2 separate regions of the Homo sapiens genome follow, and region 2 is linked to region 1. The links come from fine-mapping of genetic effects on gene expression. A gene starts in region 1. The other region holds a variant in brackets. All regions are shown on one strand. Distances are between the middles of the regions.

What was found.
Region 2: its variant is fine-mapped to the expression of TARBP2 in pancreas (GTEx, PIP above 0.99).

What each region holds. Positions count from the first base shown.
Region 1 is chr12:53,497,828-53,506,343 of GRCh38, reverse strand. TARBP2 (TARBP2 subunit of RISC loading complex) reads right to left here and starts at 5,061. Exons shown (of 9, transcript NM_134323.2): 1 at 4,883-5,061; 2 at 4,160-4,329; 3 at 3,215-3,317; 4 at 2,536-2,631; 5 at 1,875-1,947; 6 at 1,529-1,646; 7 at 1,082-1,209; 8 at 494-695; 9 at 1-353. The coding sequence starts at 4,935. The coding sequence ends at 196. MAP3K12 (mitogen-activated protein kinase kinase kinase 12) reads left to right here and starts at 6,886. Exons shown (of 14, transcript NM_001193511.2): 1 at 6,886-6,917. RefSeq lists an enhancer at 5,127-5,426 and a silencer at 6,520-6,769.
Region 2 is chr12:53,667,382-53,675,381 of GRCh38, reverse strand. It overlaps ATP5MC2 (ATP synthase membrane subunit c locus 2), which reads left to right. Exons shown (of 5, transcript NM_005176.7): 2 at 2,737-2,806; 3 at 5,434-5,511; 4 at 6,041-6,234. The coding sequence starts at 2,768. Among named protein-coding and RNA genes, the nearest start is that of ATP5MC2, 4.7 kb to the left of the region's middle. The variant A/C (reference allele first, on the strand shown) is at 4,884.

The DNA.
Region 1 (8,516 bases):
GGACGGATCCTGGGCTGGCTGAGGCTCTGTGGTCCTTGGCTCCTTGCCCTGTGCCTTCTCAGCTTCAAGGCAGGCAGTCTGTGTCAGAGGTAGAGATGGCACCCACAGAGGGTACCAGAGCTGCGCAGATACATGAGCCCAGAGGCAGAAAGAGCAGGGAGCAAAGGGTGCACATCCATGAGTCCAGCTGGGGCTTCACTTGCTGCCTGCCATGATCTTGAGGTACTGCAGGGCACGGCGGGCAGCCTCACCACGGGCTGCCTCCCTGGTGGTTGCAGAGCCATGACACACAGTGGCCGGCTGGGTGGACAGTTCCACCAGGCACTGGCAGAGTCCACTCAGGCTCAGCTCCTCTGGAGAGCAAGAGAGAGGAGGGAGGCAATGTTGGGGGAGGTAGCCCTGGGGAGGGGTGCGTTCACGTTATCATCACCCCCTTCTACTTGCTCCGGTCCAGCCCCCACCATCCCCTGGCTCGCTCCCCAGCTAGCCATACCAATATCCAGGTAGCTGACGTGAAAGGCCTGCTCCTCAGAGAGCTCACTGAGGACACGGCAGCAGGCAGGGCCCAGGGCACCCAGGGAGCCCAGGGAGCAACTGCGGAGGGACAGGATCTTCTCTCCTACTGAATTTCGTAGAGAATCCCAGGTGCAACCTGGGCCCCGGTTTCGAAGACCATCCAGGCGGGAGCCCACACCCTGTCAAGATGGGAACAGTGAGAAAGATGAAGCGAGAGACTGTGGGACCCAGGCATTGAGACATTCAACGTCAAAGGAGAACAAAGCACAAAGAATGCTTCCTCCAGCTTGCCTCCCCCCAGTCAATCCCTGGGTGGCCCCTTCTAACTACCAGGCCCTGGGCCAGATGGCCAGGGATCCCTCCTCACCCCAGTAACAGAGCTACAGAGCGGGCCTACAGTCAAGGCTGAGTCGGCCCCAGGAACCCTGGGTCTGGTAGGAAAACTGTGGCAGAAGCAGACCTAGGGCCCAGAGAGGCTCACTGCTGAGTCACAGACCCAAGTCCCTGGAGCCCTGCCCTGGCATGGAGGATGGGCCACGGTGCCCGGCCCACATGAGCCACTCACAATGGAGAAGTGGTCATCATCAGGCTCCACCTCATTGCCATCCCGGGCATCCAGAGGCACCGTGTGCACTCGAAGCAGCATTTTGGCCGCCGCATTCCGCTTTGCCAATTTTTTGGAAGTGCCACTCCCTGCATGTGGAGAGAGGGCTGCTGGGTTATGATTCCCCACAGACCCAGTGCTTCCACCCAGGTCATACTTGGATTGAGGGTCCCCCCAGAATGTCAACTGGAAAGGGGAACTCAAGACCTGCCCATGCACGTGAGAACCTGGTCAGCCAGAGAGAAGGGGACAAATAGGGTGCCAAGAAGCTAAAAGGAAGGGGCTGAGCTAGGGACTGTGAAGCTAAGAGAGCAGGGGGTGTAGCAGAGTGAGGCCAGGAGCTGCTTTGTGGCTGGGGCCAGAGTGCTGCGGGAGAGGAGTTGTGAGAACCCCTTCTTGCCCAGTTACCAATCTCAATGAAACGCTCCACTCGACAGGTCATGGTGAATTCTTTGCGGTGGGCTGGCCCAGACTCCTGGGTCACTGTGTACTCCGGCAACCGCCAGCCTTTCTGCACCACCAGCTCCTTGGAAGGGAGACACAGGGTGCATGAGGCTGAGTGAAAAAAGGCTTCTCACACCCACGCTGGTCCCCACGCAGGAGCCTCAGACTCTAGGTGAGAGGAAGGAGAGAGGGGGGTGGAAAGGGCCTCAGTACAAGGAACCGCCCCCACCCCCAAACACACATAGCCTTCCCTCATGGCCCCTGGCTCAAGGGAAGACAGGCATGCATGGGAAATGAGGATGGGACACACCTGCAGAGCACCAACGGGGTTGCACTCAGACTGCTGAGGGGAGACAGGGGGCTGCAGTTCCATGGGGGGGCTCCTGAAGGAAAAGGCACAGGGCCAAAGTTGAGGTGAAGGGTTCCATCTGAGCCTGCCCATGAGCTCCAAACCTAACCACTACTTTAGATTCCTGACTACCATCTCCCGATTCCACCGGGTGGGGAGCTGTCTGTCCACACATCTAGCCTGCTCCTCCTGCTCTAGCCGGCTTCCTTCCCCCTCCCACTCAAGGGAGGCCTTCTCCAGGCCCCAGCCCATTTCCATTCTGGAACACTTGGGTATCATCTAAGCCAGGACAGTGGGAGAAGAGCTGTATTTCCAGTCCCAGAAGTGCCTGATGGGCCTCAAACACAGAACTGACATGTGGTCAACCCAGAAGAAAATGGGGCCTGCAAGACCCTTAAACATGGTCGGACATCATTCATAAGGCTGTCTGAAAATCACAAATGACCTCTTGTCCCAAGAGCTTACCAGCTGCTGTGATTTCTTCAAGTTCTGGTTCCCAACTATTCCATTCTGTTTATTCTCAGACTTCCTCATGCCTGACCAGCTTGGGTCCAAGGACTGAGGGACCAAAAACCAGAACCCCTTCCTCCACCCACCTCAGGCAGTCAGGGGACACAGATACCTGGTTAGGACTACAGATGGAACTGGGGTAGCAGCTGCTGCAGCAGTAAAAACCGGAATGTCCTCAGGCAGTGAAGAGTCTAGGGGAGAAAAAGAACTTCCCGAGGGGAAGGGGGCCTTTGATTCACACCCATGTATAGGGGGAAGAGAGGGGTGGGGGACCCACGTCCTCCTGACCTCCCAATCCCCTAAGAGAACTTCCAAATTGAGCCAAAGAATCAGGGAGGCTCAACCAACAGCTTCCTCCTCGGATCCTTTGCTGCCAAACACCGGCGAAAAGACTGAGAAAAGAGAGTCTCAGAGAAGAGGGTATCTTTGTACCCAAGAACCAGAGGAGCAACAAACTCCAACCTGCGCGTGAAGGAAGGACATCTTGCTAGAACAAGGAGGTATGTTGGGGAGTAACTCCCTTTAGCCTCAAGCCTCTACCCCTCTCCCTCCCTAACCCAGGCCCCAACCTACTGCCACAACCCCTCTATGGGGCTAACCAACCCCTCCACCCCAAGAATTCTTCATAGCAGCAGAAGCCCTGGAAAACCCTGTTCAGGTCCAGAGGGACTCTCAGGAAGAGGCCAGGTCAGGGTGGCTAAGTGTCACCTGGCCAGGCCTCGGGGCAGAGTGGGTGGTGCAGGGCCTGGGTTCCTTGAAGGGCTTCTGGGATGCCTCGGTTCCTCCCTCACCTGCTGTCCTCCAGGGCCGGCTCCAGCATGCTCCCCCCTTTGAGGTGTTTGAGGGCCACCTCAGCTGCCTTGTGCTTGGCTGCCTTCTTGCTGGGGCCCTGACCTGAGAGAGGGGGCATGGGCAATACTGGAGGTCACTGAAAGGACGGGAAAGAAACCAGCATCCCACAGCCTCTCTCCTCGTAGCCAGAGGGAATCAATCAAGCCCCTTCTGACCAACCTCCCCCTGCTGAAGACTGGAAGTGTTTCACTAATTGCTGGAAGGAAGAGCCCTTATCTTTCCGTTAGCTTCCAGAATTAAGCCATGCCAAGCAGGACTTCTGAGCTCAAACGCCTTGGGTGGACTTCTGAGCGCAAATGCTTTAATTTCCTTTGCAAAGCACTTTCTTTTCCCTCAATAAATACAGAGAGCTGGAATAAGAGAGGGTAGGCTCTGGAGTAAAAGCCCCACTCTGCCACATACTAGGCATGTGACCATGCACCAGCCATTTACTATCTCAAACACTCAGTTTCCTCATATTCAACATGGGCGGGCGGGGGGAGGAGTCGGGGGGGCGGATACTACCACCTACAATCATTGGTTAGACTGAGGTTTAAAATTAAACGGGAATTTGGTTAAGCACCGGGAACAGAGCCCAGCACGCCAGGCACTCACTCCCCCAAATACTCCACTGGGATTTCAGTTATCTTCTCTTACTTTTCCTCTAGGGTGATGGGGATCTGCCAGATCACTGTGGGAGTCCTGCTCGCTCCTCTAACTCTCCCACGTCCTACCCACCTTCTTACAGCCCTGTTCTCCCAATCCAGTCAGTAGCTTTTCCCCTGAAATCTCTCCTTCCCTCACTGGCCTTGGAGAAAAGGACTGTGAAGAGAGAGACTCCAAGAAACAAAGCCATGGGGACCTGCAAATGCACACCCCAGCCAGGCTGCCCAAGCCTTCCTCACCAGTGCAGCTGGTGTCGCCAACGGTGACCCGGAAGGTGAAATTAGGCTGGTGGGCTTGGCCCTCGGCTTTGAGAAGGTCGTACACAGGCGTCTTCCCTATTCTGGTCCCATACTCCTGCAGAAGGCTGATCGGGGTCTTGCCTGGGTTGGCGGCCAGCATTTGCTCTATACTGGGGGAAGGGGCACAGACCCACATCACACCTCCCCTCTCTGCACCCACCTAGCCAAGCACTTCCATACCAGACCTAGGCACATTATGGGGGACATAGGGTCCAAGGAACCCCAGACAGTCTAGCATCCATTGGCTGGGTTCCAAGTGGAGGTGCAGGCTGGAAAAGTAGGGCCCACTACCCCAAAGCAAGGGGGGAAGAATGCATTGCTCCTGCCTCAGTTAAGGTGGGCACGATCCTGTGCCCCAATGCAGGTTGAAAGTGCATACCCCCTGACACAGTGCAAGCCAGGAACCCAGTACCCACCAAATGCACTGAATGTGGGGGCATAAAGCCCAGTGTTCCAGTGCAGTCTGGGAACCGGGCCAACCCCAAACTATTTAGAGCTGGAGGCAGCAGCCACTGCCCCGGTGCACGCCGGGAACCACTGCCCACTGCCCCAGTGCTTGCCGGGAACAACCCTCAGGCCAGGTGCATGCTGGGGCCGCGCCGCTACTCCCTCCGCACGGCCCCACGCTTTTCGCCCTGAAGGAATCGGTACGAGACGGCTCACCTAGGCAGCCCGCAGCCCGTGGTAGTGCCGGAGCCTTGCTCCTCTTCACTCATTCCCTCCTCCGTCCCCGCGGGCGCCACCGTGACTGCAGCCTCCACGCGCCCCAATACACAGCCGACGAGCTAGGGCCGGGGCCAAGCCCGGAGTCGCGGCCGGTAGGGCCCGCCGCGGGGCACGCTGGGATATGGAGTCCCCCGCCCACCCTACTTCGTGAGCCTCCATCTGGAGGGGAGCTATCCGCCCCACAACCCTCTGCGTGCGTGGCTCGCCCGGGCAGGCTGCACCGCCTTCTGGGAGGAGCGGGCCCTCCGCCGTCGCTTCTCGAGAAGGCCGTATTTTTTTGTTTGTAATACCGTCCCGCCTCCTTCCTTCCGCGCCCCCTCTCTCCCGGTCCGTGAAGCTGTGGACATGCGTACTAGCGGAGGGGAAGCCGCTGGGTAGGGAGGCGGTAAGGACTCACTTGGGCACGGAGCCTTTTGGATCGCGAGAAAACTACAGAACCCAAGAGCCCGCGCGCCATCTGTGTCGCAGCTGGAGAGGCAGGGTCAAGCACGCACGAGAAGCTTCATGGCGTCATTGGTTACTCCCATTGCGATTACTTCCCCTAGGTGCACTGAGATTGGTTACTTCGACTAAAGGGGCGGAGACAAGGAAAAGTCAGCCCCCCCCGACCCCGCCTCCTTGATGAAGGAAGGTTGTGATTGGTCCGGAGAGGCTGCCGTCGGATCCTGGCTCTTTGCGGTCTGGGAGGGTGGGCCTTACCTAGACGCCGGAGGGGACCGATCTCTGTTTCCGCAGGGCTCTGGAGCTGGTGCAGGTTTAAGTCCGTCTCAGACAGTCCCCTCAACCCACAGCCTAAGCCCCTTGCCCTTGGGCCTCCGTGACACAGAACTTGCTTCCTTTTCCTAGGTCGTCCTTCACCTCCCTTCAGGTGTTGCTTCTTTTGTGAAACCTTTTTAGAACCGCTCTAGTGAACCTCTCTTTAACTGGCGAGGAAACCTCTGGGGCCTGATAATCAGGCTGTAATGTGGGACGACAGGATTAGAAGGACTAGGCACCTTGGTGGTCTTGTTCCCTCTTCCATGAGTCTTGGGTCTCTCAGCTGAAGAGAGCAAAAGTGAATTTTGGCCGCCTAAGATTAATCAACTGATCTGGGTGTTGAGCAGACGCGCATTGTTTAGTCCTAGAGCCCCATTGCCTCCTCCCCCAAAGTTGCACAACCACTGGGCTGAGGGAAATCTTGTGACCTTGGAGAGAGAAAGGGAGAGACCACATTAAAAAAAAAAAAGGTTCTAATGAGTGTTCTGAGAAGGGGTCAAGAAAGATGTCTTACTCTGAGCCGGGGTTGGAGGTCCAGAGGAATCTTGAAATGATAATGAGGGGTCATCCAGGAACACTGGAGGAGGATGGGGCCTAGAGCCGAGTGAATTCCAAGTGGGTGAAATTGGAGTGAGTGGTGACAATCAAGGGAAGGAGAGCTGGCAAGATCGGTATGATAGGGGGAGCAATGCCAGAGCGCTAGGGATCCCAACTGAGGGGCTGCTCTCTCCGATGTAGAAAGGAGTCTATAAGACGGGTCATAGGGGGTTCCTGTGGAATCAGCCTGAGGCCTGAGGTGGGACCTCCATAGGACACCGCCAGCAGGGAGGCGCGGGGCCCAGGCGGGCCAGGTACGAGCCTGGAGCGCGCCGGATGGCAGCAGCGGGCTCCTTTAAGAGGCCGGCGGCTCCATCGCAGCATCCCCCGCTCAGGGCGTGTCCGTCCCGGGGGGCCAGGGGCGGGGGCCCTGGAAGGAGCGGGAGTTCAAGCCGAGCAGGGACGGGGCTAGGGGTCGGGGGGTGGGGGCAGAAAGCTGAAGCTGACACCCGTGCATCCGGACACCGCACGAGCATCGCCTGTGACAGCGCCCCGGGTCCGGTGGAGGGCAGCGGGGGGAGGAGGGAAGGAGGAGGAGAAGGAGGAGGAGGCGGGAGCAGCATCCGGAGCGGAGCTGCAGCAGCGCCGCCTTTTGTGCTGCGGCCGCGGAGCCCCCGAGGTGAGAGCCTGGCCGAGTTGTGGGGGGGTGGGGGGCAGGGATGGGTCTGGGTCCTGGGATCCGGGCGTGGAGGGAGGGTCGGGATGCAGATGTGGCCTGGTGCGGGGTGATGGCGTGGGGATGCTGAGGCTGTGGGGATGGAGGAACTGGGGACCTGGACCCGACGCCTGTGGGGCTGGGAAGGAAGGGAATGGAGCGGAGGGATGCCGCGGCCCAGCTTGGAGACGAAGGGCCTCCAGAGCTGGAAAGGACCGTATTGGGGTGGGGTGGAGGATGATTGGGGGACAGACTTAAAGGACAGAGGGCAAGAGAACATCTCCTCCCACTCATCCTCAGGAAGAGAGAGAGGGAAGGAGGAGGGAGAGTTTTGGCCCCCTCTAGGGAAGGAAAGGAAGGGCAAGGACTGATATACCCACCATCTCCACACACACACACACACACACACACACACACACACACACACACACACACACACACACACACACACACACACACACACACACACACACACACACACAGCAGGCTGGACCTGAAGATTAGTCAGAGAGCACCTGTTCCTGCATGCCCAGGCGTTGGTCCCCCTCCCCTTCAAGCTGTGATCCTCCTAATCCCCTCCAGCTGTGGCATTCACCTCCAGCTGTGGCATTCACCTCCATCCAGCTGTTGCATCCTCCCCTCCCCCATTCACGTGTGGGTTTCTCCCTCCTCTTTCTCTCCATCTCCTCTGGCTCCCCTAACCCATCTCCCCCAGTCAGGCCCTCCAAAAACCTCCTCCCTTTCCCACAAACACTCCTCAAACTCATTGGCTTAAAAATAAACAAGAGTTGAGACTTGCTGGTAACCAAGGCCTTGACTGAGAGGAGGGAAGAGTCAAGGCTCTGTAGACAGTGGGAGGAAACAGTGAGGTGTCCCTTAGAATTAAGGGAGGAGTCCTACCTTGTAGATGCTCATCTGCTGCCTTTTTCAGAGGAGCGTAGGTGAGTGGCCTCCAATCAGAAGGGAGTGCACATGAGGTCTCCTCACCCCACCCAGAGTCGTCTCAAGCCACAGTCAGTGCATCCCTCTAAACACATTTCCCTTGCAGTTCTCAAGGTGGACTCCATTGCTCTAGGAGCTCTGAGTTTCAGCCAGAGGGTCCTACCAAGCTAAGGCTAACAGAAAGGATTTAGGAAGGATAGGACTCAAGTGCCCCCTGAGCCTTCCTGTCCAGACACTGAAGTTTCTCTGAGCTTTAGGGCCCCACTCCCTCCTATCTCACACTTACAGGTGAAAAAAAGTGTGTCCCCTCAAGCGTATCATTCATCCACTCACTCCCATTGTCAACTGGGGTAATGTTAGGAAAACCCCAGCTCTCAACATGGAGACACCAGCTAAATATCCATCCCAGTTATGGACAGAGGAGGCAAGAAGTTAGACATGGCTCAGGATTTCCTAGGCTTCCTTATAGCTGAAGAGGGCAGAACCCTTCTAAAAACCAATTGCTTTTCCCCTCGTGGTGACACTGTGGTAGGATCAGGCTTTTCTAGGAAGAGGACTCTTGGTTCTACCACTCACAGCCCGGACTCTCGTAATGCACAGTCCTCCCTCTCCCCTGCCTGG
Region 2 (8,000 bases), 170 kb before region 1:
CACAAATGGTGGGCTAGAGATGAGGGTTTCTGTTGAGGCAGCAGGCCCAGAAAGGTGGGGTAAGGCCAAGCTAGTGGGGCCAGCATGAGACCCTGCCTGCCAGCTTTCCTGTGAAGGATTAATTAACCTCCCCAGATTCTGCTGTTACAAGGAAAAGAAGGTTTAAGGAAAGGAATAGTTAAGTTACTACCCCTGTGACTCATCTACACTGAGGAAAAAGCCCGTGATGATTTTGGAGTCCTGATTCTGGATAGTGCCTTTGCCCAAGTTGTAGGCTAACAATTGCAGAGTTGCCATGGTTAGATAGCCAATGGTGGGATCACTTAATTGCCACCCCTTGTTGTGGGTTTATTATATGCCAGCACCACATTAAACTCTTTATGTATGTTAATTTGTAAATGAACATACTTAATCCCCCTAAGAGCTGCATTTTACAAAGAAGATAATAAGGTATAATTCCCTTAGAAAAGAACCACCCCTTCTTTTTCTAAAAGCCTTAAAGAACTATTGGATTTTGACCCAAGAAAACCTGAATAGTACGGCAGCAAAATTGGGTTAGAGTTACATATAGGCAAAAATCAGAGTTCTAGATAGGACAAGAGTTGAAGACATCCATTAACTTAAAAGTAATTAAGGCTGGGTGTGGTGGCTCACACCTGTAATCCCAACACTGGGAGGCCAAGGTGGGAAGATCTTTTGATGCCAGGAGTTCCACAATAGCCTGGGCAAAAAATAAATTAAGAGCAATTAAGATGTTGGATTCAGAAGTGTTTTAACCTGGGACAATCTGAGTTCAGTTCATTTAATGAAGTGGTATTTAATAGCCCTAAGCATTCACTGAGTATTTCAGCCTGTGACATATTAGAAAGCATGTAACTTAAAAGATCCAAGTTCAAGTCTATCCTCTACCACTACCACAGTTTCAAGACTGGGTTTAGGGTCACGCTCTTGCGTTAAGTATACCTAATAATCATCTGGGAAACTTGTTTGAAATACAGGGCACTTGAGCCTTATTCCCAGAGATCTTTTTTGTTTGTTTATAGACAGGGTTTCACGTTGTTGCCCATACTGGACAACTGGCGTGATCATAGCTCACTGAAGCCTCCAGCTCCTGGGTTCAAGCAGTCCTCCTGCCTCAGCTTCTGGAGTAGCTGGGACTACAGGTGCACTTCCACCTCACCTGGCTAATTTTATGTTTTGTAGAGATGAGGTCTTGATGTTTGCCCAGGCTGGTCTCAAACTCCTGGCTTCAAGTTATCTTTCCGCCCCAGCTTCTCAGTGTTGGGATTACAGGAATGAGCCACTGAACCTAGCTCCCCCAGAGATCTTGACCAGGAAGGTCCAAGTTGCGCCCAAGAATATGCATTTTTTAATACGTACACCACCCAGATAATTCTAGTTCAGATGGGCTTCTCACTTCACTTGGAGAAACCCTGCCTTTAGGTTTTTAACTCACCTTCTGTTTGAGGTAAGTTCACTTCTACCAACTTAGATACCTATAGGGTGTCAGATCTTCTTTAGATCTTGGGGAGACACAATTTAATACTTTTTTTTTTTTTTTTGAGACAGTTTCCCTCTTGTTGCCCAGGCTGGAGTACAATGGCGCAATCTTGGCTCACCGTAGCCTCTGCCTCCTGGATTCAAGCAATTCTCCTGCCTCAGCCTCCTGAGTAGCTGGGATTACAGGCATGCACCACCATGCCCGACTAATTTTGTATTTTCAGTAGAGACGGGGTTTCTCCATGTTGGTCAGCCTGGTCTCGAACTCCTGACCTCGTGATCTACCCGCCTCAGCCTCCTAAAGTGCTAGGATTACAGGCGTGAGCCACTGCGCCCAGCCACTAATACCTTTTGGATAGACTAATAACAGAGTTCCTCCTTGATCTTCCTCATCTTATTAATACAGGAAATTGAAGTATTTTCAGGAATCAGATACTTCCAGGGATCAGCAAAGAGATTGTTGGAGACCTTCCAGTGTCTTGGCCTTCAACAAATATCTCCCAAAACTACAAAGACTCTAAAGGGCAACTTTTTGTTTGTTTGTTTGTTTGTTTGTTTGTTTTGAGATGGGGTCTCGCTCTGTCACCCAGGCTGGAGTGCAGTGGCGTGGTCTCGTCTCACTGCAACCTCCGCCTCCTGGGTTCAAGCAATTCTCCTGCCTCAGCCTCCTGAGTAGCTGGGATTACAGGCGCGTGCTACCACACCTGGCTAATTTTTGTATTTTTAGTAGAGGTGGGGTTTCACCATGTTGGTCAGGCTGGTCTCGAACTCCTGACCTCGTGATCCGCCCGCCTCGGCCTCCCAAAGTGCTGGGATTACAGGTGTGAACCACGTGCCCAGCCTAAACGGCAACTTTTAAAGGTCCAGATGATGAAGTCTTGAGAAGCGTTCCTTTTGAATAAAAACTAAGGAAAACTTAGGCAAAAGACACTCTGGGAAAATTCCTGTGGCAACTGCAAATCATGAGGCTATGGAAATGGGTAACAGGTCTTACCTGAACCCAAGTGTTCACTTGTTCAGACCAGGGGAAGTCACTTCATTATAAGGAAATCTTGGGAGCTGTGTGGGGTTTCTGGAAGAAGTCATGACTTCAGGGTTTTAATTCTATTTCTGCCAATGACTTAAGGTCAGTCACTGTTTTCTGGGCCAGTTAAGCTTTCTAGGGCCCCTTTTCTGCTAATAAGGATATAGTTTAGTGAATAAGGAGCGTTTACAATACTGCTTCTGTAATTCCAGCTCTCCTGCCACAGCTCCTCACCCCCTGAAAATGTTCGCCTGCTCCAAGTTTGTCTCCACTCCCTCCTTGGTGAGTACCTGCTTTTCTGGGAGAGTTTTAAAGGAGAGACATCTTGTCTCTCTCTTTCCATCAGACCTTGTTCTTCACAGCAAGGCTGGGGGAGAGGAGGTCCAGGCGGGCAGATCACTTGAGGCCAGGAGTTCAAAACCAGCCTGGCCAACATGGCGAAACCCCATCTCTACTAAAAAAACGAAAACCAGTTGGGCATGGTGGCGGGCGCCTGTAATCCCAGCTACTCAGGAGGCTGAGGCAACAGAATAGCTTGAACCCAGGAGGTAGAGGTTGCAGTGAGCCAAGATCGCACCACTGCACTCCAGCCTGGGCGTCAGAGCAAGACTCTGTCTCAAAAAATAAATAAATAAGTAAATAAGTAAGAAAGATTCTTGGGGAGGGAAGGCCCTCTGCTATGATTGCGTAACAGGATAGAGTGAATGCTTGCTAGATACTCTCCTGCCCCATATCCCTTGGCGGCCAGTTAATTTTTTTTTTTTTTTTTTTTTTGAGACAGAGTTTCGCTCTTGTTGCCCAGGCTGCAATGGCGCGATCCACCACAACCTCCGCCTCCCGGGTTCAAGCAGTTCACCTGCCTCAGACTCCCAAGTAGCTGGGGTTACAGGCACCTGCCACCATACCCAGCTAATTTTTGTATTTTTAGTAGAGATGGGGTTACACCATGTTGGCCGGGCTGGTCTCAAACTCCTGACCTCGTGATCCGAGTAGAGACAGGGTTTCTCCATGTTGGTCAGGCTGGTCTTGAACTCCTGACCTCAGGTGATCCGCCGTCCTCGGCCTCCTAAATTGCTGATATTATAGGCATGAGCCACCGTGCCTGGCTGTGCCCAGTTAATTCTTACCCAGCCATCTTAGGAGAAGAATAGAGATGAGAATCTAGACCAAGATCAAGTTATTCCTACTCCTGAAACTATATGTCGTGTAAGCTGGCCATCCAGAGTGGTAAATATAAGTAGATTACATAACTTGGACTGAGTATGCACTGTGTGTAGGATCTTGTCCTGAGTTAGCCATAGCTAAGGAGTTCATTCTGGGACTTAAATTTGGATAGGAAGCTAAAATTTACATAAATACACATTGGAAAAGTATTTGACTCAGAAACAACAGTATGGAAGAAATTTTTGAAATAGTAGCTAGAGGAGGCGGTTGGTTCATTCACAAATAAAAAGGAGTACCATTTATTGAGCATTTACCATGTGCCTTAGCACTCACTGAGTTTACTAATTGGTATACATAATCTCATTTACTCTTCAAATCAACCCCAAGAGATGATATTTTGATTTCATAAATGAGAATACAGGCTTAGAAAGGTTTAAGTGACTTATCCTGAGAATACACTGCTGATAATAGAATTAAGATTTGAATCTCACTTTATCTGATGCCTAAAGCCCTGGCTATGAATCACCATGTGTCTGTTTTGGTGTCACTGGCTTGGGGTTAGTCAGAAAAGGCTACCAGAAGGAGGTGAGTTTTGAGCATGAATCTTTGTTCCTATTTTCCAAAAGGATGTGTTCAGGGAAAGTTACTGGCTTCTTTCTTGTGGGCTGACCATTACCCATACAGAAGGCCCCCAACTTTAGATTAAGATTTTTTTTTTTTAACTTTATGATGATGCAAAAATGATATGCATTCATTAGAAACCATACTTCGGGCTGGGCGTGGTGGCTCATGCCTGTAATCCCAGCACCTTGGGAAGCCGAGGTGGGTGGATCACCTGAGGTCAGGAATTCAAAACCAGCCTGGCCAATATGGTGAAAACCTGTCTCTACTAAAAATACAAAAATTAGCTGGGCGTGGTTGCCGGCGCCTGTAGTCCCAGCTACTTGGGAGGCTGAGGCAGGAGAATTGCTTGAACCTGGGAGGTGGAGGTTGTAGTGAGCCGAGCCGAGATCACGACACTGCATTCCAGCCTGGCGATACAGCAAGACTCCGTCTCAAAAAAAAAAAAGAAAGAAAGAAAGAAACCATACTTCGAATTAGGAATCTTTATCTTTTCCCAAGCTAGCAATGTGTGGTACAATACTCTGTTGCAATACTCAGCAGGAACCCACAGCTCCCAGTCACCTGCCCAATC[A/C]CAGGGGTAAACAACCAGTACTCTACGGTGTACTGTGTTGCTAGGTGATTTCACCTAACTGTAAGCTAATGTAAGCTAGTGTAAGCTTTTTGAGCACATTGAAGGCCAGACTATGGTGTTTGGTAGGTTAGCAGTATTAAATGGTTTTTCAAAGTATGATGGATTTATTGGCACATAACCCTATGGTAAGTTGAGGAGCATCTGTATATATTTCCCTTGTTGAGTGAGGCAAATGCTTCTGAGGCTTAGATTTCTTCTTGTTCTCAAGAGCTATAAAAGGATATAGCAAGGTTGGATGCTCCCTTATGGCCCAAAGGAAGTAGACTTTCTTTCCTTAAAGCAAAGTCTGAGAAGCAAGAGAAATGGTGTGGTTCTTTAATTTAGACTTTGCTAAAAGGAAGAATGATCCAAAACTCTAACGTACATGTGAAGATGGAAAGGCCATGAGAGGAAAGAAAATCTTGTCTGATGATGTAACAACGTGGCATAGTTCTGAAACTCCTCTCCAGTCTTCCTTGACCTTCCTGCCCCTGTATGTCATTCCTGCTAGGTCAAGAGCACCTCACAGCTGCTGAGCCGTCCGCTATCTGCAGTGGTGCTGAAACGACCGGAGATACTGACAGATGAGGTACCTTACAGTGGAGTTGGGACTGTGGTTTTGGGGGTGATGGGTGGGGAGGGTTACCTGCCAGAACCAGGAGGTAGAATGCTGAGGACAGTCATCACAGGCTAAAATTCATGAATGGCCAAGGCCATGGGCTTTAGGTGGAGATGGAGGACACTTAATACACTGTATGCTATAGTGCTCCAGCTTTTGCCACTGGCAGCACATGCCCCTGTGCACTGCTGCTAACTGGTATTACTTGGCCTAGTCTACTGACTTCAGTTGGAAGCATTTAGTCCTAGGAAGATGATCTCCTTGGGGCAGCAAGAATAGACTAGGGCCTCAGTCTTACACTTCTTGACCACACCTGAATCTTAAAGGCATTTGAAGTCTACATCCTACGTTAAAAGGTTCTACTTGCCAGCATTTTAGGGCGTTAAACAATTTTCTGTTTGGGGGAGAAACAATGGGATTTGGCAGCTTAAAGGGTTTTAAATGGTACAAAAGTTACCAAAGCAAAAAACTTTACCTTCTACCTGCCTCTTTTTCACAGAGCCTCAGCAGCTTGGCAGTCTCATGTCCCCTTACCTCACTTGTCTCTAGCCGCAGCTTCCAAACCAGCGCCATTTCAAGGGACATCGACACAGCAGCCAAGTTCATTGGAGCTGGGGCTGCCACAGTTGGGGTGGCTGGTTCTGGGGCTGGGATTGGAACTGTGTTTGGGAGCCTCATCATTGGTTATGCCAGGTAAGATAAGTTGGACCCTCCACTGGTTATCTGATATGCTTTCCAAAGGTCAGAAAATATTTGGGGGTCTAGAACTATACTATCCCACACTGTAGCCACTAGCTACATGTTGTTTGTTTGTTTGTTTGTTTTGAGACAGTAACGCTCTGTTTCCCAGGCTGGAGTGCAGTGGCGCAATCTCAGCTCACTGTCACCTCTACCTCTGGGTTCAAGCGATTCTTGTGCCTCAGCCTCCCAAGTAGCTGGGATTACAGGCACACACAATGACGCCCACCTAATTTTTGTGGTTTTAGTAGAGATGGGGTTTCGCCATGTTGGCCAGGCTGGTCTCAAACTCCTGACCTCAAGTGATCCACCTGCCTCGGCCTCCCTAACTGCCAGGATTACAGGCATGAGCCCCCGCGCTTGACCTGAATTTTAGTTTTAATTAATTAAAAATACATAGTTTCAGTTTTCAGTTCTTCAGTCACGCTAACCATATTTCGAGTGCTCAGTAGCCAGATGTGGCTAGAGGCTACCATATTCAACAATGCAAATATAGAATGTTTGGCTGGGCACAGTGGCTCACTAATCCCAGCACTTTGGGAGGCCAGGGCAGGTGAATCGCTTGAGGTCAGGAGTTCGAGACCAGCCTGGCCAACATGGCGAAACCCCATCTCTACTAAAAATACAAAAATTACCTGGGTAAGGGGGGCGTGCACCTATAATCCCAGCTATTCAGGAGGCTGAGGCAGAAGAATCGCTTGAACCCGGGAGGTGGAGGTTGCAGTGAGCTGTGAGCCGAGATCATGCCACTGTACTCCAGCCTAGGTGACAGAGTGAGACTTTGGGGAAAAAAAAAAAAGAAAAAAACAAATATAGGCTGGGCGAGGTGGTTCATGCCTGTAATCCTGCACTTTGGGAGGTCAAGGCGAGTGGATCACCTGACGTCAGGAGTTTGAGACCAGCCTGGTCAATATGGTGAAACCCTGTCTCTGCTAAAAATACAAAAATTAGCCAGGCGTTGTGGTGGGCGCCTGTAGTCCCAGCTACTCGGGAGGATGAGACAGGAGAATTGCTTGAACCCGGGAGACAGAGGTTACAGTGAGCCAAGATGGTGCCACTGCATTCCAGTCTGGGCAACAGAGTGAGACCATCAAAAAAAAAAAAATTTATATATATATATATATATATATATATATATATATATATGTGTGTGTATGTATGTATGTATTAGAATGTTTATATCATTGTGTCATTGAAGAAAGTTTCATGAACAGCTTTGGTCTAGAGCATGTGTTGGCAAACTAAGGCCTAAGGGCCAAATCTGGGCCATAGCCAGGTTTTGTATGATTGAGCTAAAAATAATTTTATGGCCGGGTGTGGTGCCTTACGCCTATAATCCCAGCACTTTGGGAGGCCGAGGCGGGCGGATCACGAGGTCAGGAGTTCGAGACTAGCCTGGCCAACATGGTGAAACCCCTTCTCTACTAAAAATACAGAAATTAGCCAGGCATGGTGGCAGATGCCTGTAATCCCAGCTACTCAGGAGGCTGAGGCAGGAAAATCACTTGAACCCTGAAGGCGGAGGTTGCAGTGAGTAGAGATCACGCCACTGCACTCCAGCCTGGGCAAAAGAGTGAAACTCCATCTCAAAAAAAAAAATAGTTTCGCATTTTTAAAAGGCTTCATTTTTGTTTTAAAGCAAAAGAGACTATATGCGGCCCACAAAACCTAAAATTATTTACAATGTGGCCCTTTACAGAAAAAGTTTACCTTCCCTGTTC